Regions from separate parts of the Homo sapiens genome. Here all the other regions are linked to region 1. Evidence: fine-mapped expression QTL. A gene starts in region 1. Each other region holds a variant in brackets. All regions are shown on one strand. Distances are between the middles of the regions.

The links. PIP is the estimated chance that this variant, and not a neighbour inherited with it, causes the effect.
Region 2: its variant is the best candidate, but not a certain one, in a credible set for the expression of MGAT4A in whole blood (TOPMed, PIP 0.85).
Region 3: its variant is the best candidate, but not a certain one, in a credible set for the expression of MGAT4A in whole blood (INTERVAL, PIP 0.73).
Region 4: its variant is the best candidate, but not a certain one, in a credible set for the expression of MGAT4A in whole blood (TOPMed, PIP 0.89).

The regions. Positions count from the first base shown.
Region 1 is chr2:98,726,717-98,734,857 of GRCh38, forward strand. It overlaps MGAT4A (alpha-1,3-mannosyl-glycoprotein 4-beta-N-acetylglucosaminyltransferase A), which reads right to left and starts at 4,416. Exons shown (of 16, transcript NM_012214.3): 1 at 4,332-4,416. It overlaps LOC107985922 (a long non-coding RNA gene), which reads left to right and starts at 4,565. Exons shown (of 2, transcript XR_007087150.1): 1 at 4,565-4,979. RefSeq lists silencers at 4,424-4,753, 4,774-4,963, 5,070-5,364.
Region 2 is chr2:98,659,776-98,667,916 of GRCh38, forward strand. MGAT4A (alpha-1,3-mannosyl-glycoprotein 4-beta-N-acetylglucosaminyltransferase A) reads right to left here. Exons shown (of 16, transcript NM_012214.3): 5 at 3,271-3,404. Among named protein-coding and RNA genes, the nearest start is that of UNC50, 55 kb to the left of the region's middle. The variant C/T (reference allele first, on the strand shown) is at 3,783.
Region 3 is chr2:98,754,897-98,763,037 of GRCh38, forward strand. It overlaps LINC02611 (long intergenic non-protein coding RNA 2611), which reads right to left. Exons shown (of 4, transcript NR_126337.1): 4 at 6,167-7,682. Among named protein-coding and RNA genes, the nearest start is that of LINC02611, 13 kb to the right of the region's middle. The variant G/C (reference allele first, on the strand shown) is at 3,940.
Region 4 is chr2:98,562,936-98,570,935 of GRCh38, forward strand. INPP4A (inositol polyphosphate-4-phosphatase type I A) reads left to right here. Exons shown (of 25, transcript NM_001134225.2): 18 at 530-702; 19 at 1,705-1,828; 20 at 2,705-2,831; 21 at 3,094-3,234; 22 at 5,636-5,733. Among named protein-coding and RNA genes, the nearest start is that of COA5, 42 kb to the right of the region's middle. The variant G/A (reference allele first, on the strand shown) is at 4,583.

The DNA of each region.
Region 1 (8,141 bases):
ACTGGAATTATATGGTCCTTCTCCTCCTGGAAAAAAATACAAAACAGCTTCAAACTATATTCCCTCCTCATTGGTTTTGTTTTGTCTGTAAAAAGAAAGTTATGGTGACTGATTTTAAAGGGAAAAGTGGAGCTCACAGATTCCAAGATGAGAACTCTAATGATCACACAATGGTTCCTGAGTAACATAATCTTCACTCTCTCCAGTTTTCCTATTGCACAATAATAGGAAATTTTTTTAATAAGAAAATTGACAGAATACAATATATAAGGGTCAAAAGACCTGGACCCTTGACCCAGCTCTGTCATTACTTACATGATTTGGGGCATGCCACTTATCTAGGTCTCAAGGTTTCATTCACAAAATGAGGTAACAATCTGTCCTGTGTCCTCTTTCACATATTGTCATAAATTATTAAAAGGTTACAGTTATAACTGCTGTTTATCACTGTCATAAAATAAATGTCGTTTTTCCAGTGACTAACCCACTCCCAGGGTGTAAACTGGAACTATTTAAGCATTTAGAAAATGCAGCAATCCAGCCAGGATACTGTACACCTTAGGCTCTATCACTCTGCATTGCTTTAAATCAAGAAATCTGGGAAATCACCACTGATCGAACAAAGCTGTTGGGAAAAGGGAAAGAAATGAAGTCTTAGAAGTACTTAAGCACAGCATTCAGCATATAATAGGTTCTCAAAAAATGTCAACTGTACTAAAAACCAAACTTTTTTGGTTAATTGAACAACAACAAAACCAGCCAGCTACTGGTTCCAGTCCACTCTATGCATGGTCAGTCTCAATCCCTGGAGGCACGCCAGGCCCTCCAAGATGTGAACAGATTCCTGGTAGCCTCAGGAGGTGCCACAGGATGCACCTGGTAATATACTGACACTGTAGTGGGGGAGTTAATATACCTCGAAAAATGGCCAGCAGTTCCAAGGGAAAATTCTCTCTGGGGAAGAGCACAACCGATTCAAGCAGCCATTTGCAGGCAATTCAGAAATTGCCACCACCACTGCTTCTTAACACTGAACACTACTAGAAATTCCCCCTAGTAAAGAAAGATCACAGGGGCATAGTACTAATAATGACAGCCACTACAACTTATGAAATGTTTCCTATGTGCCTGATCCACCACATGGTTTAAATCTTCACAAAATCGTTCCTATGAGGCAGGCATTATTAACCCTGTTCTACACACAAGGAAATGAATCCAGAGAAAGAACTCGAATTTGTTTGTCTCCAAAGTCCAAGCTCTTAGCTGCTACACTTTCCCTCTCAAATGAGGCCTCCTGCACCTGGCAATATGAAGAGAAGTTCCAGGGATACTCCAAGTATCAGGTAAAACTGCAGAATTATACCCAACTGTAAGTGTAAATTAAAAAAATAAATTATATAACACACACTGATCTACTAAGGAGTAAGTTGCAAAATTCATGGAAATTTTCAAAGTGTATGTTTATACAACTTTAAACAAATCTCCACTTCCTGTAGCTTTTGGCTAATACCTCACCACAACCCTCCACCAAACTATGCCTGTTAACCCTCAGACAGCAGCTCTACCTTCCACATAATATTCTAGAAGCACCTAACCTCTTTTACTACCTGAACACAAAGAGATCTAAAAATATTCTCATGCAGAAGTTATCATTGTTCTCTAAGATTGAACTTATTCACCTTCTACAGTTAAGACAAGTTAACATCAAACATGCCCACGTCTACAGTTTAGAATTAAAATCTTCACAGTGGCCAGGTGTGGTGGCTCATGCCTGTAATCCTAGCACTTTGGGAGGCTGAGGCAGGCAGATTACCCGAGGTCAGGAGTTCAAGGCCAGCCTGGCCAACATGACGAAACCCTGTCTCTATTAAAAATACAAAAATTAGCCAGGAGTGGTGGCAGGTGCCTGTAATCCCAGCTTACTCGGGAGGCTGAGGCAGGAGAATTACTTGAACCTGGGAGGCAGAGGTTGCAGTGAGCCGAGATCACACCACTGCACTCCAGCCTGGGTGACAGAGACTCAGTTTGAAAAAAAAAAAAAACTTCATAGCAAGACTGCTCTAATTGTCTTAAATCAATAAGCACCCAATAATGAATTCTGATTATAAAAACACGGGTGATAATTCTATGAATTATATAACTTGGAACATTAATCCCGGTGTGGCATTATATTAAAATACTTATAACTTTCAGCTGCTATCTACTTAGCCCTATTTTACTTGAGAAAGAATTTTGTTCTAGTAAAAGATCTAAAAAGCATACAGGTTATTAGAGTAAGCACTCAATTCATAATAACGGGGAGGTAGAGCGCACATCATATAGTTAAGGATATTTTAAAAGTTTTACTAAATACAAATAAAGCTTGTAAAAACATTCCGTAGAAATGCATAGAGACAAGTAAATGAACTCTAAAACCAAAGTAAACTATTGATATACTACCCCTAATATATGAAAAAAAAAAAATACTGGATCCAGTAAGTTATGAAACTCTGAAGATACTTACAATAAATTCTACTAGCAAATAAGCCCTGAAATTTTGCAAGAAAAATATGCGTGTTTTACTCAGTAAGAATGTAGTCATACATTTTTAATTAGGGTTTCCCAGCTAATAAGTTTAACTGCACGGCACAAGTGAAGAAACTCTTCGGACAAGAGTAAAACCAAGGATCTACTCACTCTTCAATTATGAGACATAATTCACAGGCTGGCTTGTAAGACACAGGTGACCCACATTTTTATTAGTGTCCACATTTGCAAAAATTTTAATCTAGCCCCTTAATATTCTCGGAGACTATAATCTAACACGTTTGAATCTTTAACAACAACAAAAAAAGGTAGTGGCTAAAATTGCTAGTCATTTCTCCACCCTCCCAAAGGTGAATGGAACTTTCAACTCTAGACATCAGACTGTTTTGTTAGCAATCCTTTAAGGGCTTCAGTCTTCATTTTATTATTGGATACAAAACCTTTACTTATTTTAAAGTGTTCTCTGAAATACTCAATATAGTCCACGGCTGAGAACACTTTGCCGAACGTTTGGCATCTTCCTTAATCAGCATCCCACAGACAGGGTAGAGGTGACTTAAGAATGAAAGGCACAATAATCCCTGATATCTGGAATCAATAAAATCCATGACGTAAGCCTATATAACTTTACACACCACAATTGTGGCAAAATTCATTTATTTGCCATTTATAAACGGGTCAGTAGTTTTCTTTAATACAGCTTACGTAATGTCATCGCCCAGTGCGTTTTCGGGTTTACACGTGTGGGTTAAAGAAATCTATGTCAAGATAACCTGTTCATCAAACTGTTTTTTAAACATTCAGAAAAAGAAACATAAACCACAAAACGCATATTTTTATTCTAAATTTACAGTCTACGTTCCAACGAACGACTGTCATTATCTTTTATCAAATAATCTGTCCAACAGCAAAAGCACAACAGCAAAATACGTGGAAAGCATTCAAAGCATACATTGTGCCTGCTTCTATTTTCCAATGCGGAATGTAGGCAATGAAACCGCTCCAGAGAAACACACTGTTGCGAGGAATAAAGGCGGGTGTGCAAGTGGCTCGACTGCCAGCTCAGAAAAGCTCGCCTCCGAGATGTCACCTGGCACACTTGGTGGAGTCACCGAGACCCAGCCTCAGGGTCCTACTGCAGCTTCCTCATTACGGAGAGAGCTGAGGCCTGGGGAAACGGGGGCTGCTCTTTCACGCGGGCCCCGCAGCCCTTCACTTTGTGTGAAAATTCCCTGCGAAGGCTGCACGGCCGGTCCCCTCGGGAGCAGCCCCTGCCCCTGCGCCTCGGACCGTCCGGCCCCGCCCACCTGCCCCGCGGCCCCCGCGAAAGCGCCGACTCCCGCGCAGCCCCCGGGTCCCACAGGCAGCTGTCCCTCCCCCTCCGCACCCCCCGGATCAGCACTTTGCTCCACTTTCCCCCAAAGTCGCCGAGCCCCGCCACGCCGGGGAGCGCCAGGAACGCACCAGGCGCCGAGCCGGCCGCAGAGAGGGCGCGCGACCCCGAGGGGTGCGCGGTGCGGGGCAGGGACGCTGGGAGGACGGCCCGGCCCGCGCCCCGCCGCCCGCCCCCGAGGCCCAGCCGCTCCCGGAGCCGGCCCCGCGCCCAGAGGCGCCAACAGCTCCCCCGCACAGAGCTCCGGCCGGGCCGCGGCGCAGTAGGCTCCTTTACCAGCAGGTGGATCTCCCGCAGCCCGGGGCCGCCAGCCCGGCCGCCGGCGCCGCCCCCAACTCCCGCGCCCTCCGCGCAGCCGCCCCGCGCCCCCTCCCGCCCCCGCGCGCCGCCGCTGCCGCCGCGAGCCCCTCACCCGCCGCTGGCGTCGCCGTGCTCCCGCGGCTGCCGGCGGAGCTGCTGTAGCCGCCGCCGCCGCTGCCGCCGCCGCTGCGGGCCGCCCCGCCCGCCCCGCCGGCTCCGCCCCCGCCGCTGGAGCGCCCGCCCCGCCCCGCCCCGCCGGGCCGCCCCGACCCCGCCAGCCATTGGCCGGCCCCGCGGGCCCCGCGCCCCGCGCCCCGCGCCCCACCAGTGGCCCGCGCGACTGTCACTTAGGGGCGCCGCCACGCAGCCTGCGGAGCGTTCGGGAGGCTGGCCCGGCTCATCGGTGTCACGGCGAGGTCCGGAGCGGAGCCGCGGTCTCGGGTCCCAGCTCTGGGCGCCGGCCTGCTCCCCGCCGCCCCGCTGCCACATCTGGCTGAGATCCTCCCGGCGCGTGCAGGGACCGCTCCGGCGGCCAACAAAGGCCCGGGCGAGCCCTCGGCCTGCGCCTCGGCGCGCGACCCGACCACCCGGGGCTGCCCCAGCTCCCAGGCGCCTGCCTGCCTCGACCCGGCCCCTTCCCAGCGGCGCGCCCCGCTCCGGGCCGCCCAAACTGGGCGGCCTCCCCGGGGACAGGTCCCGGGCCCAGCCCCACAGGAGCTCCCGAGGCCCCGCGGACGGTCGCGACAGCCCCAACTTCCCGGTGAGAACCCCGCGAATCGGCCAGAAGGGCTGATTTCAGCAACTGGGAAGGAGAAAAACAACTAGGGTTTCAACGCACATCGTTGGGTGCTAATGCCCCTGATTTTCCACTATGCCCCGTTTTCTTGAACCCCATGTCCTTATCTGTCGCCGTTTCACAAGGTTAGAGGTTAACTTCAAAGGCAAAAAACTGACTCGTTTGTAGAAAGCCTGGGTGGTCTGTCCCTGTTTTTCATAGTATCCATAGGACTTGTGCTAACAGTAACTACCCCTGGGTACGTCCTCTTTTGAATACTTAACTGTATAGCAGGCAACCGTATAGCAGGCATGGGTGTTAGATCGTTTATTGCATATCTCATGTTTTAAATTTATTCCCCATTTTTCATAAGAGGAAACTAGCTGAGAGGTGAAAGGGCTTGCCCAAGGTCACACAGCTGGTAATGGTTCAAAAACAAGGGATGTGTTAACTTTATTGCCGCAATAATCCTTACAGCAATCCTACCGAGTAACCTGTAAGGGAATTGAGGGGCCAAAGATCAAGGAGGCAGCCTTGTTCCTGCCAAACTCCCAAAGTAATAAGTAGATTCTTTTCAGAAAACAGTAATTTCAATAATCGAAAACTCTTAAGAGGCATCAATCAGAACAGGGTCCCCTCCCCACCTCCGATAAATTCCATTATTTTTATCTCAAGATAAGAATAATTAATAATCAGCTAGAACATGCATGGAGTTATCAGCCTTCCCATGTTGAGGTTTCTCCATGACGGCTAATTTAAAACTTCAGGAAGAGACACGTAACATCCCTGCTCCCATAGTCTCTTACTAGTTTAGGGGAACCATACCAAAAGATCTGTCCACTGCCCAGCACTGTGGACACAACTTGGGGGATCACAGCCATGATATCCAATGACAGCTCTTCCCTCTACTTTGAGTGTGTTTTCTCTCTACTTCCGGTTTGGCTGTGTCCCCACCCAAATATCATCTTGAATTGTAAATCCCACAATTCCTGTGTGGTGGGAGGAACCTGGTGGGAGGTAATTGAATCATGGGGGAGGGTCTTTCCCATGCTGTTCTCGTGATAGTGAATAAGTCTCACGAAATCTGATGGTTTTAAAAAAGGGAGTTTTGCTGCACAAACTCTCTTTGCCTGCCACCATCCATGTAAGAAGTGACTTGCTCCTCCTTGCCTTCCACCATGATTGTGAGGCCTCCCCTGCCATGTGGAACTGTAACTCCATTGAACCTCTTTTGTCCGTTGCCCAGTCTTGGGTATGTCTTTATCAGCAGCATGAAAACGGACGAATACATTGGGGACCTGAAAGCCAGGTTTCCTGTATTCTATGACAAAGCCATTGCCAAGTAGCAAGCTGGCAATTTGATTCATGACCAGATGTAAACAGAGGTAAAGACTGAGACCATTCCAAGGTAAAGCTTTTAATACATTGTTGGATATATCCTGCCTAAAATATCTCCTAGGAATAGATGATTCTAGGCTTTGCTATTACAGTGCTCTTAATGACAGACAAGCAAACTACTTCTTGCAGAGGAAGAAAGTCCTGCCATTTGATAACATCATGGAGAATGCCCCCAAGCCATTTTCATGAATTACCCAAAAGACCAAATGGAACAGGAGCTATTATCCCTATTTTATTCACGAAGAAACTGAGGCCCTGAGAAATTAAGACATTTGACAGATACAAACAGTAATTTAGGCAATTAGTAAATGTTTGAATCAGAGTTCAAATCCAGGTCTGTTTGATTCCAGAGCCCCTACATCACCCCTCCAGACTATCTCTCTGCTCACATCTTCAGCAAGTTACAAAATTTTGTTGAGTGGATGAATATTTTTACATATATTTCCCAGCTGGGCACAGTGGCTCATGCCCATAATCCCAGCACTTTGGGAGGCAGAGGTAGGAGGATTGCTTGAGCCCAGGAGTTCGAGACCGGCCGGGGAAACAGAGAGAGACCCATGTCTTTAAAAAAATAAAAATTAAAAATTAGCCTGGTGTGCATGCATCAGTAGTCCCAGCTACTGGGAAGGCTGAGGCATGAGGATCATTTGAGCCCAGGAGTTCCAGGCTGCAATGAAATATGATCATGCCACTGCACTACAGCCTGGGTGACAGAGTGAGACCCTGTCTCTCTCTCTCTCTCTCTCTCTCTCTCTCTCTCTCTCTCTCTCTCAAAAGAAAGAAAAAAAAAAGCCAGGTGTGGTGGCTCACTCCTGTAATCCCAGCACTTTGGGAGGCTGAGGCGGGCAGATCACCTGAGGTTCAGGAGTTCAAGACCAGTCTGACCAACAGTGTGAAACCCTGTCTCTATTAAAAATACAAAAATTAGCTGGGCATGGTTGTGCGTGCCTATAATCCCAGCTACTTGGGAGGCTGAGGCAGGAGAATCGCTTGAACTCAGGAGGCAGAGGTCACAGTGAGCCAAGATCGCGCCATTGCACTCCAGCCTGGGCAACAAGAGTGAAACTCCATCAAAAAAAAAAAAAAGATGTTTCTCTTCACCTTCTCCAGTTTTTTCTCTTAGTGAAGGAAGGAAATGAAAGCATTTACAGACATTCTATAAGCAGAGGCATATGTCAGAGGAGAAAGGAATAGGGGGAAGGACAAACTTCAGTTATAGACTCCACCGGCTTATTCAGATAAAAAGCGGAATTTCCCCTGCACTCTGGGTAGTGGAGGAAGCACAGCAGAAGACAAAAAGTGTACAGGAAAAACACAACTGCTTTCACTTGGAGGCTTTTTTGATACTTCGTTGCTGCTTCAACTGGCAGCAGAAGGGCAGGTTTTGGAAAATAGGGTTACACTTATCTCAAACCATATACATTGTAGCTCAGGAAAGTCTGGATTTCAGTGAGTTGTCCCAAGAAACTGGAATGCCATAGAATATATTATTCCAAGGTATAGGGTATAATTGGTTGATGATTCATGTTAACTTAGCAGAGTTTATGATCCTGGATTTTCCAACTAAGTCCATAGTATCTGTTAATAATCAAAGACAATCCATCCAAACCCCACTGAATCCCATTCCATATCTTTTTCTCTTTTTAATATTGTTGATGATGATTCTCCTCCTCTATCACTTCCTTTTTATTTATTCTCTACTTCTACAGTTTCTGTTTCTGCCTTTATTTCTCAGTGGAATTGTACCCA
Region 2 (8,141 bases), 67 kb before region 1:
CATTTTTCTTTATAAATTACCCAGTCTTGGGTATGTCTTTATCAGCAGCATAAAAATGGACTAATACACCTACCTATCAATTTTAAATACAGCGATAACTTATAAAAATGCTCAATTGTTAAAAGACTCAATGATATATAAAATATAATCTATGTTATAAAGACTGTCAAAGCACTTAATACTTGAGAAAAACAAACAAAAAAGGTATAGCTTAATCCTGGAAATTGCAAAACCATCAAATTATAAAAAGTTTTTATAACAGGCTTTCTGGAAAACAATATACAAACATCGGTAGCATTTCTACATACTAACAATGAACTATCTGAAAAAGAAATCAAGAGAACAATCCCATTTAAAATAGCTACCAAAAAAATACTTAGGAAAAAATTTAACCAAGGAAGTGAAAGAACTAGACACCAAAAATTATAAAATGTTGATGAAATAATTTGAAGAACACACAAATAAATAGATATCTTTGCTCATGGATTGGAAGAATTAATATCATTTAAATGTCCATATTACCCAAAGTGATCTACAGATTCAATGTAATCCCTATCAAAAAATTTAATGACATTTTTCTCAGAAATGGGAAAAAAATCCTAAAATTCATATATAACCACACACACACACACACACGCACGCGCACACACACACACACACACACACACACACACACACACACAACAAATAGCCAAGGTAATCATGAGGAAAAACAATAAAGCTGGAGGCAACACACTTTATTATTTCAAACTATACTATGAAGCTATAATAATGTAAACAGTATGGTATTGATTTTTAAAAAACAGACACACTGGCCAATGGAACAGAATATAGAGCCTAGAAATGAACTCATGTATGTATGGTCAATTGATTTTCAGCAAAGGTGCCAAGAACACTCAATGAAAAAAGTTTCTTTAGTAAATGGTGCTGAGAAAACTGGATATCCACATACAGATGAATGAAAGTGGAACTTCAACTCACGTGAAATATACAAATAAACTCAAAATGGATTGAAAACAAAAGAAGACTCTAAAACTACCAGAAGAAAACATAAGGGAAAAACTACACGACATTGGCCTGGGCAATGGTTTTTTGGATATGACCCCAAAAGCTCAGGCAACAAGAACAAAAATAGACAAATAGGATCACATCTAACTAAAACTCTTCTACATGGCAAAGGAAATAATTAACAGCATGCCTGACAACCTATGGGTTAGGAGAAAATATCTGCATGCTGCACATCTGATAAACAGTTAATATCCAAAATATATAAGGAACTCAAACAGCTCAAGAGTAAGAAAAAACACTGAAAAAATAGGCAAAGGACCTGAACAGACATTTCCCAAAAGATGACATACAAATGGCCAACAGATATACGAAAAATCCTCAACACTGCTAATCATTAGGGAAATGCAAATTAAAACCACAATCAGATATCATCACATCTGTCAGGATGGCTAACTGTCAAAAAGACAAAAGATAACAAGTATTAGGAAGAATGTGGAGAAAAGAAACGGATGGATATATACACTGTATCCATACTGGATACATACATGGATCCACTGTATCCATATTATCAAGCTCTGAGTATAGGTTGGTAAATAAAGAAGATCTCTGTTTGTAGAACTTAAAACTGGTGAGAGAAGCAGTTCATAAGCAAACAAACAAAAATATGTACACATATGTATGTGTATATATAACTGAATATTGTGTTATAAAAATAGAATGCAATAATAGAGGAAAAACAGAGATGGCCTACTTAAACATTACATTCAGAGAAAATCTCTCTGAAGACTTGACATTTAAGCCTAAATTTGATACATATTTCTATTCAAATGTACAAAACTAAACAGAAAACATTAAAAGGGCTATTTTAAGTTCATTAATTGGAGCTTTGTCCTTAATAGCATGTTGATGCTATAGCAATGGTTCTCATTTTTTATTAGAACCCATTTAGTTAAAAACATGTTCATAATTTACCCATCTCTGATCACCTCCATGAACAGTCTCCCAGTCCAAGCCTCACCTCGATTATGGCAACAGCTTTCTAAGTAGTCTCCTTTCTTTTGCCCTTACCAAAGCAGACAGCAGGATCCTTTTTAAAAAGGCAAGTCATATTATTCTTGCCAAAAATGCATAGTCAAAATATAATCATGAGAAAATATCAGATAAATCCAAACTGAGACATTTTACAAAATAACTGACCAGTGCCCATCAAAAATGTCCAAGTTCATGAAAGACACAAACATGGACAGGAGGAAGCTAAGGCATGAGAACCGCTAACTGCAATGTGGTGTTCCATAGTGCATGCTGGAACAGAAAGGCGAACCCAGGCGGAAAAACAGGAAACTCAAATAAAGTCTGTAGTTTGGTTGAGTATTATATCAGTGTTAATTTCCTGGTTTTGATAACTATAATATGGCTACATATGTTGTTAACATCAGAGCAAGCTGAGTGAAGGAGATACCCTCTATAATTTCTGCAACTTTCTGTAAATCTAAAATTATTTCAGAACAAAAAGTCTTAACATATAATTTGAAATAGTTATATTTATGTAGAGGAGTAACAGGTAATTTTTCATTATATATTTATGTAATTGTTTTGAACAGTATGCATTTGTTTACTTCTCTAATAAGGAAATCATCAAGACCATTTTCATTTAAAAAGACATGGGGAACTCTAAAAAGTTAGGAATTAGTGGGCCAGAACTAGACCATGTCCTAAATCCTTTCCCATTCTGAAATTCTATACAATAATTAAGAAAATATTTACTCTAGGGTCTTATTCCTCATGATTTAAAAAGAACTTGCTCAAGATTTATTCTTTCTCTAAATCTTTTGAGGAGACTAAAATACAAGAAGTGTGGTATTTCTCATTCACATGATTTCTTAGGAGTACAGAGAAGGGATGGAGAGAATAAAAGAATGATAAAACCCCAGCTGAGCCTAAACCTTTTTCAGGTTTCAGGACTCCCAAAGATCATCAGTGCAAATCTCCAAATTTAAGTCTTAGAGCTAGAAATAGGCACACGTTCTTAAAGATCTACGGGTGTAACATCCTATTGACAACAAATATTACTATTCCTGGTTTGTAATTGCAGGACAGAAGTGAGTTCAATTTACATTAAACTACCAGATAGAATATATTACCTAAGCTTTACTCATCACATTTTTTAAAAAGCGTTTTTAAAAGCATATTCAAATATTCAATTAGAGTTTCAACTCTTATAGGCTATATTTGGTAAAAACATAACAACAATTAAATAATTACCTCTCCTATGAAGACTACTATAACACAGTCCAACTTCTCTTCAGGATACAGGTTATCAATAAGGGAATGAAGAGTTTCTATGAGGTAAGATTTAACTTCTCTCTTCACTGTGGGAATGCCCATGACTATTGAAACTGGAAAAAAAAATAGTAATTATATTAAAAAACTGTACAAGGACAATACAGAAAAACACTTCTATTTCAAAAGTATTATACCCTCTCAAATTGATAGGAATAACTGATGGATCAAAATATATTAAGTTTCAGGAAGAAAAATAAAGAATACAAGGGCATACCTGTAATACTGTAATTCATTTTCACATGGCTTAACCATAAGAAAAAAAGAACTGATAAAAATGAAAGACATTAAACTTCACACTAAAAAATGAATGGCTGCGAAGTATAAACAGCAAACTGTATTTTACAACTAAAACTTAAAAACACTAAACATATCTTAAAAACTAATGTCTTATCTCTCGACTTCAAGCATGTGACATGCCGAGAAGAGCACAA[C/T]ATCAGTTCTGTGGTTGTTCTTGCCAACAATGCATAACCTCAACTTAACCGTAAAGAAACATCAGAAAAATCCAAACTGGGGCAATGCTCCACAAAATAACAGTACTCTTTAAAGTGTCAAGGTCATGAAAGACAGAGTAATGAATGGTCCCCGATTGGAAAAGACTAAGGAACCACGACAATTAAGTGAAATATGGGATCTTGATTTGGATCCTGAAAGAGAAAAACAGCAACAATGAAACACATGACAAAATCGGAGTAAGAGCTAAGGTTAGTGAACAGTGTAGCATCAACGTTAACTTCCTGGTTTTTGATCGCTATACTATGGTCATGTAGGGACACTGGGTAAGGGCATATGAAAACTTTGTGACCAGGCACAGTGGTTCACGCCTGTAATCCCAGCACTTTGGGAGGTACAGGTGGTACACTGCTTGAGCTCAGGAGTTTCAGACCAGCCTGGCCAACATGGCGAAACCCGGTCTCTACTAAAAATACAAAAATTATCTGGGCATGGTGGCGCACACCTATAATCCCAGCTACTTGGGAGGTGGAGGCACAAGAATCGCCTGGGAGGCAGAGGTTGCAGTGAGCTGAGATTGTGCCCCTGCACTCCAGCCTGGGTGACAAAGCAAGATTCCATCTCAAAAAAAAAAAAAAAAAAAAAAAAAAAAAAAGAGAAAACTTTGTGTACTATTTGTGCAACATTTTTAAAGACTAAAATTACAGTCAATGTTCCTATAATGCTTGTTTTCAATGCAAATTTGTTTCTACATGATTAACATATTAGGGAAAAACTGGGGCATAACACATGAATTTCACATTAGCTTACGTGCAATTTGTCCTCTGAGACAAACACCAGGTGAACAACAGAAAATTGTACCCAGCTGAATTGAGTTCAGAAAATTAAACCGAACCATGTAGAAATACTGCATACAAAATGCACGCACCTCAAAATACCTACCAGCTGTCTCAGTTCACCACAACTATCAACCACACCCATCCACACTGGGTGTTGCAACCTTCCATCAGATTGCAAATAACCTACCTCACAGCCCTTCACAATAACTTACAAGCTGCAATCCTTCAGCAACCCACTTCAACAAGCAAATCTCAGGGCTTTTTCAAGATGGAATGCCACATTTATGTGTTTCTTAATCATTTAACTTGCGAAAAACTGTGCCACTATTATAATTAGGTTCTTATCCTTTTTTATAGTGTAACTGACAAAGTGTTTGAGTGTTGTGATCCTAACCCCCTTGCTCTCATTTTTTTGCACCATTTTCATACCACAGTGATTTTTAGGAACACTTATACTGCATTATAGAGGTATTTCAAAGTAAATTTTTAAAAATTATGCCTTAAAGTCTTAGTACGCTATGTATCAATACAGAAGTATTTTAAATATGGTAAAAACAACTTAGTCTTAATCATGCAACAATTTTTTGGAGATACTAAAAAATACTTATAATTCACAGAATTCTAATGCCAGGGGCTGGGTGTGGTGGCTCATGCCTGTAATCCCAGCACTTTGGGAGGCCGAGGCGGGTGGATCACGAGGTCAGGAGATCGAGACCATCCTGGCTAACACGGTGAAACCCTGTCTCTACTAAAAATACAAAAAATTAGCTGGGTGTGGTAGCGGGCGCCTGTAGTCCCAGCTACTCAGGAGGCTGAGGCAGGAGAATTGCTTAAATCCAGGAGGCGGAGGTTGCAGTGAGTCAAGATCGCGCCACTGCACACCAGCCTGGGCAACACAGCAAGACTCCATCTCATCTCAAAAAAAAAAAAAAAAAGAATTCTAATGCCAGAAGGGAGCGTAAAGACCATGGATCTACCACCATGATTCTTGAGGTAAGAATACTAAGATGCGAAAGGTTTAAGGGACTGCCCCAAGGTCTCGTGACACAACCCTCTCTTCCATTTTAGGCAAGAAGAGTTCTCAAGCACTCAAAAAGATATTTGCTCTATGAGACTCCGTCCCCCCAAAAAAAGATATTTGCTCTATTTGTTTTGCACATATTTACTGCAAGGCACTATTCTAGGTGTTAAGCATACAATGGTAAATAACATAGGTAAGGTCCCTGCCCTCATGGAACGCACATTCTAGAAAGGGGAAAAAGATTTAAAATATATGTATCTTACAGGCTGCTATGTATAGGTTGGTACTGTCAGAGTGATGAATGGGGAGGGGGTACCCCTGTAAGTCGTGTGGTCACGGAAGGCCTCTCTGATATCAGCTGAGCTGGTAACCATGAGAAAGAGCTGATGAAGAATACTGCAGAAGAGGAAGCAACAAGGCCCTGAAGCCAGAATGATTTTGACATAGTCAAGAAATACCAAGAGCAGGTTGGATCGAAAGCAGAATAAGCCCAGATTGAGAAAATCAGTCAGGGGTCACATTGCATATAACAAAGTTTGTTTTAATGCTGAGTGCAAGAGAAAGCCATTGTAAGGTTGTAAGCAGGGGAATGACATTATCCAATTTGTAATTTTAAGAGATTACCAAATTTCACAAAAAGTAAAAGCACTTTGGAAGAGTGGTTAGGAAGTTAATGTACTAACTGAAGGAAAAGATGGTGGTTTGAATGAGGCTGTAGGGTGTTTGAAGAGGTGGAGATGAGTGGATGATGGAGACCCTTGCAAATAGGGCTTCAGCTGGCAGACAAGAGAAGGGGAGGAATCAAGGGTGACTTGAGTAACTGGACGGGGGCAACTTTCACTCAGAACAACACACTTGAGGAGAGGGCCTCCAATCCAGATTTCTCTTCTGACCATGTTACTCTGAGATCCCAAAAGACAGGATGAGTTACAATGGAAGCAAAATTCCATAGAATAATCTACCTCAGAATTTAAGGCCGGGTGTGGTGGCTGATGCCTTTAATCCCAGCACTTCAGGAGGCTGAGGCGGAAGGATCGCTTGAGCCCAGGAGTTCGAGACCAGCCTGAGCAACTTGGCAAGACCTGGTATCTACAAAAAATAAAACACTTAGCTGGGCATGGTGGCGCATGCCTGTAGTCCTAGCTACTTGGGAGGCTGGGGTGGGAGGATCACTTGAGCCTGGGAGGTAGAGGCTGCAGTGAGCTGTGATCACACCACTGTACTCCAGCCTGGGCGACAGAGCAAGACCCTGTCTCAAAAAAAAAAAAAATTACCAGCGTAACAACTAGGATGAGGAGCATTCCTAGAAAATGCTAACTCATGGAGTACAAAGACTTCACTATGATGAAAGCAAAGCCCATGGTGATCCACAGTGTGCAAACAAGAATGGCATAAAGTCACAATGCAAATTCTCTATCCCTACCATACTCTCGAGGGTTTTTGGTTTCCGTTTTGCTTTGCTAAAGTTTAGATGGCACGTGATATGGTTTGGCTGTGTCCCCACCCAAATCTCATCTTGAATTCCTACGTGTGGTGGGAGGGACCCAGTGGGAGGTAATTGAATCATGGGGGCAAATCTTTCCTGTGCTGTTCTCGTGATAGTGAATAAGTCTTACAAGATCTGATGGTTTTAAAAAGAGGAGTTCCCCTGCACAAGCTTGCTCTCTGCCTGCTGCCATCCACATAAGATGTGACTTGCTCCTCCTTGCCTTCTGCCATGATTGTGAGGCCTCCCTAGCCACATGGAACTGTAAGTCCAATTAAACCTCTTTCTTTTGTAAATTGCCCAGTCTCAGGTATGTCTTTATCAGCAGCATGAAAATAGACTAATACAGTAAATTGGTACCAGGAGAGTGGGGCACTGCCGAAAAGATACCTGAAAACGTGGAAGTGAATTTGGAACTGGGTTAACAGGCAGAGGCTGGAACAGTTTGGAGGGCTCAGAAGGCAGGAAAATATAGGAAACTTTGGAGTTCCCTAGAGACTTGTTGAATGGCTTTGACCAAAATGCTGATAATGATATGGACAATGAAATCTAGGCTAAGGTGGTCTCAGATGGAGATGAGGAACTTGTTAGGCACTGGAGTAAAGGTGATTCTTGTTGTGTTTTAGCAAAGAGACTGGCAGCATTTTGCCCCTGCCCTAGAGATTTGTGGAACTTTGAACTTGAGAGAGATGATTTATGGTATCTGGCAGAAGAAATTTCTAAGCAGCAAAGCATTCAAGAGGTGACTTGGGTGCTGTTAAAGGCATTCAGTTTTTGTTGTTGTTGTTGTTGTTGTTGTTGTTGTTGTTGTTTTGAGACAGAGTTTCGATCTTGTGGCCCAGGCTGGAGTGCAATGGCATGATTTCGGCTCACTGGAACCTCCACCTCCCAGGTTCAAATGATTCTCCTGCCTCAGCCTCCCGAGTAGCTGGGATTACAGGTGCCCACCACCATGGCCAGATAAGTTTTGTATTTTTAGTAGAGACAGGGTTTC
Region 3 (8,141 bases), 28 kb after region 1:
ATTAATGATGGCCGAAATAGCCAGGCAAGCCCAAGAGTGACGGGGCCTGGGACCTTCTGCCACAACTCCCATTGGACAACTAGCCATATCTCCGAAGGAGCCCTGGGTAACCCTCGACGTGGCAGGTAAGACTGTTAACTTGCTTTTGGACATGGGGGCTGCTTGCTCTGTTTTGACCCATTATAATGGGATTCTGTCACCCCAAAACTGTATGGTCACGGGGATAGATGGACAAGCCCATAAATGCCATTTTACCTATCCCTTAACAACTTTGGTTTTCTCACATGCCTTTCTTATCATACCTGAATGCTTCACCCCCTTGTTGGGAAGGGATTGTTAACTGAATTGCAAACAGTGGTATCTTTTGGAAATCAAAAGACAGACTAGGGGTTGTTCCTTCTCCTTTCCTTTGTTAAGGGAGGAGAGTCAAAGGGGCTTACCTACTTTACCTGTTGAAGTAACCTCCCAAGTAAATCCTATAGTATGGGTCACTAAAGTTACAGGCAAAATGCTAAACCTTCCCCCAGTTTGCATCCAACTTAAGCCTGGTGTCCCACACCCATGGAAGAGACAATACCCCTTAAAGCCAGAGACATAAAGAGGGATCCAACCACTAATTGCTAAGTTTTTGCAGTTTGGGTTGTTAAGGCCCTGTGAATCTCCTTGTCATACACCAATCTTGCCAGTTAAAAAGCCAAATGGAGACTACAGATTTGTTCAAGATCTTTGAGCTGTCAATGAGACTATCATTCCTATACATACTACAGTGCCCAATCCCTACACGCTGTTAGCCCAGGGACCTTTTTTTTTGCATTCCAGTACACCCTGATTCACAATTCATCTTTACTTTTGAAAAGACTGATACTGATAGCCATTTAGTTTCTTAATTAACTTGGACAGTTCTTCCCCAGGGGTCTAGGGACAACCCTAATCTGTTTAAAAATGCACTACCTAGAGAATTTAAAATGGTACAATTAAGTAAAAACACTATTACCCAATAGGTGAGTGACTTGTTGGTTACTAGCTCAACTAAAAGAAACTTGGACAAAAATACCATTCAGTTACTAAACTTTCTGGGAACTAGTAAGTACAGGGTCTCACCACACAAAGCCCAGATTTCAACTCAAGAGATTAAATACTCAGAATAAGTTCCAACCCCTGACAATAACACCAGAATGAAGGGAAACTATCTTGGACATTCCAAAACCCCAAACTAGAAAACACCTGTGGACTTTCCTAGGGATGGCAGGATTCTGCTCTTTATGGGTAGTTGGATTTGGGCATATAGGCAAGCCTTTTGATGAGACTCTGAAAGGAGCAGATGTAGGTCCTTTTGAATGGGATAGTAATTGTGAACAGGTTTTTAAAACTCTCAAGGAGAAATTGGGATCAACCCCAGCCCTAGGGATCCCTAATTTTGATAAGCCGCTTTTCCTTTATATGACTGAAAAACAAAGCACTGCCCTAGGTGTCTTTGTCCAGAAATTGGGAGCTATTCCCTGACCAGTGACATATTTTTCTAAACGACTAGACCATGTCACTTCAAGATGGCCTGGATACCTCAGGGCAGTTGCAGCAACTGCCTTAGTAGATGAAACAATAAACTGGCTTTAAGACAACATCTGGAGGTTTTAACCCCACACCAAGTACAAGGAGTCCTAGAAACTAAAAGACACCAGTGGATGACAGGGGGACTCATTAAAATATCAGGCTTTATTGCTAGACACTCCTGATGTAACTCTTAAAGTATGGCATACTTTAAATCTAGCTACTCACTTGCCTGAACCTACAGGCACCCTAGATCATTCTCGTATACAAGTTATGGAGCAAATTTACTCCATGGAAAATCTCGGCTCACTGCAACCTCTGCCTCTCAGGTTCAAGCAAGTCTCCTGCTTCAGCCTCCCGAGTAGCTGGGATTACAGGCATGTGCCACCATGCCCAGCTAATTTTGTATTTTTAATAGAGACTGGGTTTCACCATGTTGGTTAGGCTGGTCTTGAACTCCTGACCTCAGGTGATCCACCCACCTCGGCCTCCCAAAATGCTGGGATTACAGGTGCGAGCCACCACACCCGGCCCATCACATTCTTTAAAAAAGCAGAGAAATGAGTGACACATTCTTGAAAACTTTCCATTACGAATGGATGAAACCTAAGATTAGTTATTTAAGGTTTCTCAGATGGGAAACCTAGCTTCCTAGGGTGGCTTATTCTTGGAGACTCCAGACAGTGAATGTTTTACTAGGCTGTGTGTTCACTCCATTTGTTATTTTCTTAATTTGTTCATTTTTAAAGGCAAGTGATGCTATCAAACTTCATTCTATATGTCTATACTACTGATTTCTGTTGACTTACCCCTCACTTCCCCCTATCTTCAATGGCTAGTTACTGTTTTAACCCCATACTGGGTTGTCTCTTTTATTCATTTACTCTTGCACCCTCCTCTATCATCACTGATGAAAATTTAAGCTATATTGGCCCAAGATCAGCCTTTGAAAACATTCTTTGTGTGTTCTCTCATGCCAACATCAGGACCGTATTTTTCTGGTTGTTGAGTGATTTATGTGAGATGAGTTTAAACCTCTTGCTGAAGTTAAGATGTATCATGTAAATGACAACCTTTGATTTATCAAACTTAGTAATTAAAGTTTCCTAATGCAACAGGATGTGCTCTTCCCATAGCCATACTGAAGAGTACTTCATGTTTATTCTTTGGAAGGGTTAAGCAGTGAGACAGCCACGGGTGCTCGGATCAGACATTTTCGTTTGTGAGGGTTGGAGAATGATTTTCTCCTGTTTCTTATCATTAGCTACCTTGCGAACTCTCCTAAAGCTACTGAAATAATGGCAATGGTTTAGACGCCCTGCATCTCCAGGGCTTGTGGTTTGTGCACATCTCTCGTCTAAATAAATATAAATATTTTCTCTGTTTCTATTTTATCTTCCCCAAATTCCTGGTTCTGGTGTTGCAACTTCATAAAACCCAGAGCCCACATGGCAGTACCAGCTGCTAGCCCAGGTCAAACTTGGGGAGGGCAGCTGCTTTCCAGGTGCACCCTGTGTGATCCTGACTTCCTCCTGACAGTGCCAGGAACGCCCGTGAACTGCTTTCGTGGTTGCATGTGAAAACTTTTGCATTTCTAGAAATCTCTTCTCCAGCAGGCTGGGCTATTGGCTGCTGTGGGATTGCTAGCTGGTCTAGACCCAGCCCCTCCTTCAGGCTTTTCCCACCCGCTGCTCCTCTCCTGGCCTTGGGCCTCATGCCCGAGTCTCCAGCCGCCACCTTGCTGTTGCTTTACTGTTTCTCCGTGATGCTGTTTCTAGCTAGTTATAATTGGCAGGCAACCAGAAGCCTCATCTGCCAAGGGCGGAAGTCATGTCTGGAACAGGTTTCCCTCTTAAGACTGTGGGCTAACCCAGCATCTTGCCACTTTGTGTGGGACTTCCTCATTCTTAGTACATAACTGTGTTTGACCCTCAGGGATGACTAGTGTTTCCTGGCCTCGGTACAGTTGACTTCTCCAGAAACTATCTGGCTCACTCTCAATTTCCTGGAGCCGTATATCCTAATTACAAAAATGGGAAAATCATACCTAGAGTCCCATAGAAAGAGAAATAGAACCCCCATATGTGCCTACAATTCATCCATTCTCAATTCATTATTTTAAAAATGTAGCTGATGGTTTGGTTCTGAGACCAGACGGTACAAAAATTACCATTCACTCATAGTAGGGCCATCAACTACCATAATCTTTTGGAAAAGTAATTTAGCAATATAAGTCAGGACCACTTAAAAAACCCTTAGAGTTGCTCATTCCACTCTTAGGAACTTATCCTAAAGACGTCAACAGATGTGGACCAAAATTTGTGTGCAAGAATATTATGTAGAATTTCTGTATTGAGAAAATTTGGAGACAGCCTAGCTGTCCAAAAATAG[G/C]ACTAAATAAAACATGGTACAGCAATATAGTGAAATATTATTATATAACCATTAAGTTATGTTCTTCAACAGTATTTTTAAAATAAGGAAAATTCCAACGTTTTTGAGGAGTCTTTTTAAAAACGAGAGTACAGACCAGGCACAGTGGTACACACTTACAATCCCAGCACTCTGGGAGGCCAAGGCAAGTGGATCACTTGAGGCCAGGAGCTGGAGACCAGCCTGGGCAACACAGTGAGACCCTGTCTCTACAAAAAATACAAAAAATTAACCAGGTGTGTTGGTGCACACCTGTGGTCCCAGCTACTTGGGAGGCTGAGGTGGGAGGATTGCTTGAGCCCAGGAGTTTGAGGCTGTAGTGAGCTGTGATGCCACCACTGCACTCCAGCCTGGGTGACAGAGTGAGATCCTGTCTCAAAATAAAATAGAATGTAAAAAGAGCACATGCATGAAAAGTGGAACACAACACTTTAGGTAATAATATTATCCCAATCACATAGGTGTGCTTAGTGCAAACAAAAACATTCATAGTATTTATCTCTGGTGGTAGAATTACTGGCGATTTAAAAAAAAATACATTTTTTTCTGAATATTCCAAGTGTTCTACAATGAATGTGTTACTTTCCTAATCAGAAAAACAACTGTTATTTGTTAAAAGAAATTAGACCACAAAAAAAGCAAAAACACAAAGGCCTTGCCTATTTTTTTTCCCCCTGTTTTACCACATCCTTTCTCACTGATGTAGAAAAAAAAGGAACTAATATTTATGGTGCCAAGAATGTAAATCCGTCCTGTAACTTGGAAGGTACATGTGTATCTTTCCCATTTTAAAGGTAATAAAGTCACCAAAGAAAAGGGTGGCAAAAATAAAATGTGAATGCAGGCCCATTGGCCCCAAAGGCATCTTCTTCTCACGTCTACACTGTCCCACTCGTGATAGTTTTAAGTTGCATGTTATTCTGTACCTGGCCTTTTTAATTTTATCAAAATAAACTTCCCTTTGGTAACAAAGATATTCTACTTTCTGTAAAATTTTCATTCCAGCTAACTTTTGTTAGCTAAGATTTTGTCTAAGGAGTACCAATGCTTTGAATAATCATACTAAAAATATAGCCTAATTGGTCTGAATGAAATTGAACAACTGCAATTGTTCAAACAAGCTGGATGCAGCATTTTTGCACGTGCCTAGTCATTTTGCTACAGTAGTCATTGCAAACGAGTGCCTGAGACACAAATCTCAGAGAAGTCATGGTTTTGAGGGATCAACTTGGAGAAGCTGCCATCTCCTCCGTCCCTCTGAGAACATCCTCCTAGCTGGTGGCATTAGCATTCTGCCTGCCCAGGTGAAGGCCTGGCAGGTTGTAGGAAGCCTCCCGTGGGAGCTGACCAGACCCTGAATACCCCTTCTGCATCACCCCAAATTGAATATGGTTATGCAAACAGCCTTTAACAATCCTTGTCATCTGGATCTGAGATACAACTTTAATGATTTCACATATGTCATCTTGCCACTTGCCTGCACCCATAGATCCCCTGCTGTTGTGTGACAGTGACCACTGTGCCGTGCTTGTCTGTTACCCTATGACCGAGGAGGAACTGAGAAGACATATCATTCCTCAACATTATGATAAGGAAATGGGGACCAGAGGAGTTAAGCAATTTGCCCAAGGCCATGCAGCTTGAAGTGCATGTGTCAGAGCTGCTGCCTGTTTTTGTGTTTTGTTTTGTTTTTTTTTATTGTTGTCTGTTTTTTTTTTGAGACAGAGTTTCCCTCTTGTCTCCCAGGCTGGAGTGCAATGGTGCAACCTCGGCTCACTGCAACTCTGCCTCCTGAGGTTCAAGCAGTTCTCCTGCCTCAGCCTCCCGAGTAGCTGGGATTACAGGCGCCTGCCACCACTCCTGGCTAATATTTGTATTTTTAACAGGGACAGGATTTCACCCTGTTGGGCAGGGTGGTCTCGAACTCTTGACCTCATATGATCTGCCCGCCTCGGCCTCCCAAAGTGCTGGGATTACAGGCATGAGCCACCACGCCTGGCGGCTTTTGAGCACTTACATTGTGGCTGTCTGAAATGAGATGTGTTCTAAGAGTGAATTATGCCCTGGACTTCCAAGACGTGTTTTGAAAAAATATGCATAATATCTCATCAGTAATTTTTATATCAATGGCATATTTAAATGTTCATTTTGGATATACTGAGTTAAATAAAATATACCATTAAATTTAATTTCAGTCTCTTTTTTATTTTTCTCTTTTTTAATGTGGTTACTAGGAAATCTTAAATTACAAATGTGGCTTGCATTGAATTTCTGTTAGCAGCAATGTCTGAGAACTGTTTTTCTCATCTGTTAAATGATGTTAACAATGAGAACACCCATAAAGTTCCCAAGACAGTAAGTGTCCTATACATGTTTATGTTCTTCCCCCATCACTTTTTCTCAGCAGAACACTCAAGCCTCCTGACTTTCATTTCATGATCCAGATACATTCAAAACCATTGTTCCATTTCCATCCAGATTTCTCCTGAGTAAGGGCTTTTTTTTTTCAGTCATGTGTCACTTGAAATCTTATGATTACAGTTTGTAAATAGCAAGTCAGAAGTTGGAAACTCAGCCAAGATTCTGAAACTGCCTTGCCTAAAGCAGAGGCATCAGAGAATGCACCTATTCATAAACCCGTCCCAGGCGCTTGTGAAAAGATACACTGACATTTAGGCAGGAAATGCACACAAGGTAATTCATTCCTATTGAAGCTCACTGAGCATCAATCTGGTTGCGATATGAATTATTCATGTCCCCCCCCACCCCGCCGCCGCTGCCACGCCAGCCTCATGTTCAAGGCTGATGTCAGTGCAGGACCCATAGCTCCTCTCTCTAGGCCCTTTCCCGGGCAGCTGTGCACAGATCAACACCCCGTCCTAGAGCCAGCTCTCATTCTCTCTGTGGTGAGGGCTCACCTACACGGACCCAGAGGCTGCGATCGACACCTGATGGGCCACTACAATTCAATTTTCTTGTCCATCTGCTAGAAGACAGATGAATTCATCCAACAGCCAGCCCAGGACTCCAGAGGAAACAACTTGAGATAATTTATGAATTGATTTATGCCACTTCTCTTTCCACAAAGAATGTATGGTGGCTGCATAATATGCCTTTTGTTGAACTTACCAAATCGTTCTCTCATTTCATGTTGTGGACGTCCTAGTAGGGAGTGATAAATGCATATGCTATAAGGCCCAAACAGTTATGCTGATGGGGAGCAAGGAGCAAGCGACAGGGAGTGGTGGAGACTGTGTCCAACGGAAGAGCACCTGACCCACCTGCAGGGGCAGCCGCTGCCCATCCAAGCTGGTCGTTGCCTGTGATGATGCTCTTGGTGTTGCAAATCCTCTGATTTGTTACAAAAGGTCAGATTCCCAGATTTTAATTTGGAGATCTCCTAATTTTTGAAGTGTGGGGCTGAATAAACCTGCCTATTGGTCCAATTCAGCCAGCCAGTTGATAGTCCCTGATCTTGTTTGTTTGCTTGTATAAATGGCAGGCTTTCATGCCAAGGATTCTAACTTCATGTTCTTTTTTATTCCCTCTACCCTTCATCCCTCCTTCCACAGTACATAGCATTTATACCAATTATGATTTTCAGAATTAGACACCAATTTACCATCCTCATAGTTGCTCCGGATGCATCTTTTTTGTTATTTCCTTTTGTGTCCTCCTCCTTTTTTCTCGAAGTTCTCCAGACTCTGAGAGAGGAGGGGAAGCGAGAACAGGAGTCGATAATGGCCCTTTTCCAGCCACACACCCTCATCTGTAAGAAAATGTGGCTGAGTCTCCCTCTCCACGCTTTATCTTCTGTGTTGCCGAAGCATTGCCAGAATGTCAGGGCTCAGGAGAAAAGAGGGGAAGGATGCCAGATGAGGGTCTGGAAGGTCTCTCCTTTGTTGTAAGGCAGCAGTGGAGCAGTTAAAGGCATGAGGGACCTGCCTCCATACATCCTCTGCCAGGCGTGACTGAACTCCCACCCGCCTCCCCATGTGCCTCCCAACGGTGGGACACTTTCTTTTCTGGGGCTTGCCACTGCCTCCTAATGATCTCCCCCATTCAACTAGATACTTTGTCTTTGATGACAAGCCCTGGGGTCCCAAAGAAACCTGGGCTATATGCACAAGTAACCAGAATCCGCGAGTCAAATTCAGTTTCAG
Region 4 (8,000 bases), 160 kb before region 1:
TCCAGGTGTGCAGGGGTAAGAATTGAACACAGTTGCACACAAGGCTTGGCAAGGGCAGAGGAGTCTCTGACTTGACTTTATACCCAGGTCAAGAGAAGGGAGATCACAGAGAACCTTTCTGGGTGTCCTTCCTCTCCGGGTGGAGGTGCTACAGGGCTGTGGAAGGAGATGGGCCTCTGGGGACAGAGCATTTTCTGGCCTCGTCATGACTTGCAGAAGCTTCTTTGTTGTTTTCCTCCGAAGGCATTGTCTTGAGTATTTCTGTTTAGGGTCCCCAACAGGTTCAGGAGACCAGGCATGTCTTGGAGGTACCGGAGTAGAACTGGTGTTTGAGGTTGCTGGAAAGAGCTGGGGCTAGAGGGCTAGAGGGCTAGAGACTGGGTTGGTTCCAGACAGAGCTGGAAGATGAGGTGGAGATGGGGGAGTGGGAGGACTGCAGTGGTTAGGGGCCAGGTGACTTGTTAAATTGCCAGAACCTAATTCTTAAAATCTCTCTCTCATTGTGATGACCCCTTCGCTTGTGCCCCAGGTGAATGGAGTGAGGCCCTTTACCCGCTGCTGACCACTCTCACCGACTGCGTGGCCATGATGAGTGACAAGGCCAAGAAGGCCATGGTATTCCTGCTCATGCAGGACAGCGCGCCCACCATAGCCACCTACCTGAGCCTGCAGTACCGCCGTGACGTGGTCTTCTGCCAGACGGTAGGCCCCGGGAGCACCCCGAGGGAGACCACGGGCACCTCTCAGCTCAGAAAAGACAGGCTTAGGAAGCCCTTCCCTCTCACTTCACTTGTAAAAGACCCCAGATGGCCATATTTCCTCCTGGTGGTGCTTTAAAGGTTATTTAATAGAGAGGTCTACATTTCAACACAGTCAGGAGAACTACCTTGGCAGCCCATGCTTGCTTCTCCCAAGGAACTGGCACCTGCAGAGTCTGCCGATTCTGCACCCAGGAGATAGTGAGGGCATGCATGGGTGGCACAGGCTTCTTTGCTGCGTTTTTTTTTTTTTTTTTTTTTACTGCACAGAGGTTGAGTGAGGGCAACACAGGTATTTGCTGTCAGTGCAAACATTGCTCGTATAACAGTAGGTGCCTTAGCTCTGCAGCTTGTTGCAGGACTCTCTTATTGTTGAGAGAAGTGAAGCCTTGAAATGAATGTAACAAGTTTAATAGTTGCCAGTAATCAAATTAGTAAAGTGAACAGTGATTTGGGGTTGGGCTGGTTCTCTACAGGTTCCCTCACCCATCCTGGAGAGTCCTGTTTCATCCCATAGAAAATCTCCCACTGGGGAAACTTTGAGTGACCATGTTGTCTCTCACTTCTGTTTTTTGCTGGGGCTAACTCAGTTTCCAGCCAGGGGTGGCATGGCTCTATGAGTAGATAGACCCTTTCACTGTGAGTAATTAATAATGGGCTTCCAGAAGTTCCAGCCTAGGAATAAAGCCAGGTATAGGTCAGGTCAGAAGCTGGGCCAAAAACCAAACCCACTTGGTGAGCGACAGGAATAGCAAGCCCACTGTTGGGCGTCTTCCCATGGCCAGGGCATGCCCCACCTGGGCTTCTCAAGGGATGGGAGGTGCCACTGAAGCCCCTTTGAGCAGTGGCAGCAGAGGAAGGGGGCGGTGGGGGGCTGGGCATGATCTGACTGCCATTTGGTGAGCAGGCACCTGACCCTGAACCTCTTCACCCCACGCTCCCACAGCTGACCGCCCTCATCTGCGGCTTCATCATTAAGCTGAGGAACTGCCTGCATGACGACGGCTTCCTGCGCCAGCTCTACACCATCGGGCTGCTGGCCCAGTTCGAGAGCCTGCTGAGCACCTACGGTGAGGCGCCCGGGCCAGGATCGGGAGCCCCACTTGCGTGTGTGGTTTCCATCCTTTCTTGCTAGGCACTTTTCTCACTATACCAGTAATGCGTGCTTATTGAAATAAATCCAAAATATATAACAGCAGACCAGATGGCAGACCTGGCAGTTACACACGCACACGCCTTGGTTTGTTGTTGTTGCTGGTTGAGGATGGATGCTAATTACTTAACCAGTAACTTCCTGTTGGACTTTGGGTTGTTCCTGAAACACCAGTGCAGCAGTGACATCTGTGCATGAGGCACTTGTGGGCCTGTTTCTGCAGCTACTGAATGACTGGAAGGAGAGTTGCTGGGTCAGAGGGTAGGAATATTTTTAAATTTAATAGATATTTCCAAATTGCCCTCTAAAAAGGCTCTCTTCTTCCTACCCTTGTTTATTATTTATTTATTCTGAGAAGGTGATAGAAAGCATTTGTTAATCATTGGAAATTGAGGACATCGAATAGATATCAAGCCCTGTGTAATGGGAGGGTCTGGCCACAGCAAAGCTGCTTTAGCATCTCTCATTTCGTGTTTCAAGAGCTGGCTTTGCTTTCTGAGTTTATGTATTTGTTTCCCTCCCTACTATCTGGTGCTTGCCCAAGAAATAGTGGGAAGGGATGGCGCGTGTTTCCACCAGATGCATGTTTTGATGTGGCTGTGGGATTTCAGAGGCATTGTTGACTCACAGAGGAGTGAGTTGCAGGGGAAGAGGCTCAGAGACTCCCCCTCCACCAGAGCCACACCTGCACCCCTCCTGTCACAGCCAGGCCTGGGCTTGGCTGCCTTCTGCTGAGACTGGGGAGAGTAGCAGGGCCCTCTGCCTGACAGCCCTGCCCCTCTCTCATGTCCAGGGGAGGAGCTGGCAATGCTGGAGGACATGAGCCTTGGGATCATGGACTTGAGGAACGTGACCTTCAAAGTCACTCAGGCCACTTCCAGCGCCTCCGCAGACATGCTGCCCGTCATCACAGGAAATCGGTAGAGTGTTGGTTTAAAATTCTCTGAGCCAGAGAGCGGTTTTCATTTTTGTTTATCTCAGGGAAGGTACTCTTCTGAATTTTTTATCCTATTTCATTTTGTTAAATGCTCTGATTACAGCCCCCTAGGTTAGTGCCACTCCCTTAAAGGTCTGTGGTTGGCAGTTTGGCCATCACTAAGCCAGAGGGCCAGCCTGGGCACTGCAGCCTGCTCGGTGGCCCTCTGGCCTCACACTGCTCTCCCTCTCTCCACCTTTCTCCAGCGACGGGTTTAACGTGCGGGTCCCTCTGCCGGGCCCGCTGTTTGACGCCTTGCCCCGGGAGATCCAGAGTGGCATGCTGCTGCGAGTGCAGCCCGTCCTCTTCAACGTGGGCATCAATGAGCAGCAGACACTGGCCGAGAGGTGCGTGCCGGCTCCTCGGGGCTGCGGGGGTGTGGTGGCCCTGGAGATGATGCAGAAAACGTACTTACCCCTCTTCAGGCTCTAAGTGCTGGACAGACTTTGTCATCCTTCCTTCCTTTGGCCAACATTTTCATCATGGCCGTGCACCTCACTGTCTTTGGTGCTAGGGACACAGAGTGACCCAGAGGTGGTCTCTGTCCTCAGGGACTCAGCTGGTGGGAGAGAGAGAGACATGGATGCAATGATGAAGACAGATACAGGGCATTGTGGGATCCGGAGTAGGGCACCCAGCAAGGTCTAGGGGGTCTGTAAAGGCTTCTTGGAGTTGCAGGGGATGGGGCTTTGAATTGTGAATAGGAGTTGGATGATGAGGTGGAGGGGAGACATGTCAGATTAAGAAGACTGAAGAAAGGCCTGGCGAGGAGAAACAGCATGGAGTTCAGGGGCACCAGGTTCCAGGCAGGGATTGGCAGGTAAGGGTAGACAGGCTCTGTGTGCCAGGCTGAGACTCATGCCTGAACCTAAAGGCAACTGCCCTCCAGGGTCACTTGCCACACTGCAGAGGGGAGTTGTGTGTGCCTGTGTGTGCACGTGTGCCTGTGTGCGCACATGTGTGTGAGGAGATAGGGTAGATTGGGTATATGTACCCTTTACTGGCCTTCCACTAGTACATGAGAATGATTCCTGTGTTGTCATTTATCTTCATGTGATATGTGTAGAATAGTCTAAACAGAGATCTTCAAGTACTTGCTGTGAAGGAAATTTGGTTTCCAGAACAATATGCCGTGTTCCTGCTGGGCCTTCTGATGTCCAACCCCAGTGGTTGATGTCCATTGACGCCTAGGTGTAGGGTCACACCAACTTAGGAAATATGGTATCATTGCTGGGAGACACTGAAGAACTCTCAGTGGGGCAGGACACAATCAGATTTACATTTAAAGTAGGTCGTTTCGCTGGCACGTGCCGGGAGGAGATGAAGGGGACAAGTGTGAGGAGGAGGCTGCTGGGAGGAGTCCAGGCCAGAGGTGGGAACCTGGATCAGGGCCAGGGGAGTGTTGGTGTTCTGCAGAGGGGTAGGCTGGGGAACTGTTAAAGTGGTCAGTGGAAGGGTTTGGTCTTCAGTGGGGTTGGGGCTGGGGCTGAGTGGGAGGAGAGTACACCAGACAGACCCACCCACTGAGCTCATAAACTGGCAGGAGAGTCGTGTCCAGAGGCAGGTGGTGAGCTGGGTTTGGACTGAGGGCACCAGCCCAGGAAGCAAAGCCCCAAAGGTGTGAGCAGAGCTGGAGGCGCCTATGTCAGGGAGAGGCGCAGCCTCACTGGAGCCCCAGCAGGGAGGTGGCCCAGG[G/A]GAGGGAAAATGATGGTGCCTGCATCCAGTAGCTGCGGATCCCACAGACTTGCAGGAGCAGTTTCTAGAGAGGGCTGAGCCAGAGCCAGGTGCATTGAATAGAGGGGAGGGTGGAGGATGCAACACTGAGGACAGAGAGGACTTGCAAAGGGCAGGTTCTTGACTTTGTTTCTTTATTGGCCCTGAGGTCACTGGTGAGCTGGGCTTGTTTATAAGCTGAGGGAAGAGCCCTCAGAGGGGAGGCCACAGGCCCAGAGTCAGGGATGGCCCCCAAGGGAGCAGGCGTCTAGAGAAAAGGCCATTGTGGACACCAGGGGTGGATGGGCTGGGACCCGTAGGAGGGAATCCTGCCCTCTGAGGGATGCTCTCGGGCCACAGAGAAGCTGATGCTCGGAAGGCCCCTCAGCAGGGATGTGTGAGACTGCACTGGGGCCCAGGACCTGGACTTCAGAGCCTGCATTTCCTAATGATCACCTTGTGCCTTCCTTGCAGGTGGCATTTTATGGCTTTGTTTCTTAGGCATTTGGCACATGCTCCTTGTAGCACACTGAGTGTGATCAGGGTGAACCTGCACGATGACGAAAGGGCAAGGGCTTCATGTCAGTCCCGGAGGGGCTGGCAGTCAGGTGTGTTCATTCTGCACACAGAGAGTGACTTCAGATTGGAGTACAGGGCTGCATCCTCACCTCTCAGCCATACCTCACTGCCGTCCCCCCTCCTAAGTGCCTCAGATGGGAGGAGACCAGGGACTCTGAGCCAAATGGCTGTGAGGGGGGATCCTGTGCTGCACAGGATCTGTACCACATCATGTTCTGGTCATCTCTCAGGCACGCCTGTAACAGTGATACATGATTCCTGCCAATGGAATGCATTTAAACTGATCAGCAACACTGTAGAAATGCCTTTATGCTCGGAAGAGGGAGAGTGGCTTAGAATTTAGATATGCATAGTAAATGTTTGAGAGAATCAGCATAGTTAGCTTCCATGCAGTTGTGTTCATGTTAGAAGAAAGTGACATTAGCCAACTAATGGCATCCCCTATAACCTCCCAAGGTTTGGCGATACGTCTTTACAAGAAGTCATCAACGTGGAGAGTTTGGTGCGGTTAAATTCCTACTTTGAGCAGTTTAAGGAAGTTTTGCCTGAGGATTGTAAGTATTTCTTCAGTCATGGTAGGTTTCACTTACTCGTCTTTTTATCAGTTTAGATGTCTGAGCTCTGGCTTGCCCTGCCTCTGTGAGTGCATGCCTGTGCATGTGTGTGCACTGTTCCCTTTCTCCCTAAACACACACACGCAGAGAGAGAGAGAGAAGCTTCCCTTGGCTGTGGCCCTCATTCATCTCTTTGCTGTCGATTCTCTACTAGCCTATGTGACATGGCTCCTTCCCATGCTGTCGTAGTCACTGACACAAGATGTGTTTGGTGGCATGCATTGTGCACCTCCTGGTAGGACTTGGGGGAATCACAGAGGCAGGACCCACCCTCGGCCAGGTGAGCGGCCCACTCACTTCCCTTTGTGGTGCTTAGAGAGGAAGATGCGGGGCCAACATTGCTGGGTGTTTGGGAGCAAGGTGGCCCCATCTCGGCATCTCCTGGAGGCAGTGGAGATGGTGACAGTAATCTCTCTGCGTGTCCTGCAGTGAAGATGCTGCAGCTAGGGCTCTGCAGCCACAGAACTAAGGGAGGAACCGAGAGCTGCACAGCACTGTCTACGAGAATTCCCTCTTGAGTTCAACCCAGTGAATATTCCCTGAGGACCTGCTGTGTGTAAAGTGCTAGAGGATCCGATGGCGAATGAGGGGTGGACCCTACCTTGGAGGGAAAGCTGGTCCCAGAGTGCCGGCCTCTCTGTGCAGGCGCTGCCACAGCCACTAGGGGGCGCCACGCGTCAGAAGGTATCATCCCCTCTGTGTTACACTAGTGTCCTCTGATGGGGGTTTCCAAAGAGGGAACCCACATCGGCTGGGCTTTGCATTGGGCAGGCTTCATCTGCATCCTGTTGGACGGTACGGTAGACCTTAGAGTTTAGAGATAGTCAAACAGTACTGCTGGTGAACCTTCACAGGTCACGGATGTGCCAGACACTGGGCTGGGCTCTACATACGTTTCCACGCTGAATCCACAACAGCCCTATGGGTCGGTGATAGGATCCATGTCCAGATGAAGAAAGGGGTGCCTGGCTCTGAAGCCCATGTGCTTGGATTGTGGCTGAAGCCGTCCTGCTAGGAGAGAGTGATGCAGAACACTCCGGGGCTGGGCCAAGAAGTCGTGGCTTCAGCAGGGAAGCAGTGGGAAAAAAGACGCCTCTTCACAGGTTCATCTAGCAAGAGTGTGCGGTTGGATTGGAAGAGGGGAGGCAAGCCGCTGATGGCCAGAGTGAGGCTGTGACACTTCAGATGAGATGTTGTTTCACTCTGACTCCAGCCTGGTAGTGACAGTGAGCGTGGAGAGAGGGATGAGGCGTTAGGGGGGTTTGGGCTGAGGATGCACTCCTCAGCGGCCACGTGCAGCTGGCGCTGGGGAGGTGAGGGCTGTGTCTGCTGGGAGAGCTGACAGACCTGGCTCTGGGCAAGGACGCTGGAGTTGCCGGCAACAGCTGGGGCCGTCCCGCTGATGAGAGAGGCGCAGGGCTACAGGGGACCGACAGCGAGTGCAGCACTGGCCCCAGCTGAGCTGATGACATGGGCAAATGACTTGTGGGGAGTGCAGATGTGGAGCCACAGAGCAGAGCCCTTTGGTGGTTGAGGCCACTGAGTGACAAGACGAGAAGGGGCTGGAACAGCATCTGGAGGGGCCCCTGCTCTGGGGGACAGCGAGGAAGAAGGGACTCAACAGAAGGCGAGAGAGAGCATCACAGGCTAGCAGGAAGAAGGCAGGAGCCAGGAGGGTGTGGGGCGCTGCCGGACACTGGATGTGTGGACAAGGAGCTGCTGGTGATCTCTCCCATACAGTCTCACTGTGGTGAGGGCTGGGCCAGGGATCAAGGGGTGATGAAATGGTGCTGCCCTGGAATGGACCACTTTGTCCCAAAGACTGTCAGCAACTTGAGGGATGGGGCTGTGGGCAGGTGGGACACACCCTGGAGCTGCAGGGGCCATGGGAGTGCTCAAAGGTCCGAGGGAAGGAGAACACACAGGGCTGGAAGATGCAAGAGGACACCAGAGTCACAGACCAGGCCCTGGAGTGGGCAGGCGGAGGGTGCCCTTGCAGGGAGGGAAGGAGGGAGGAGAGAAGGTAGGGACATGAATGGAGGAAATATGCTCAGGTTGGGCAGCCTCAGTCTCCCCAGTAAAACAGGTGTTCTTGTCCTGCTCAACATGAGAGAGGTGAGCACAGAACCGGGGCCTTGAGGGGAGTGGAGGTGACTGGCAGAGATGCAGTTGGAGCCAGAGAGCCTGGAAAAATACAGATGCCTGGG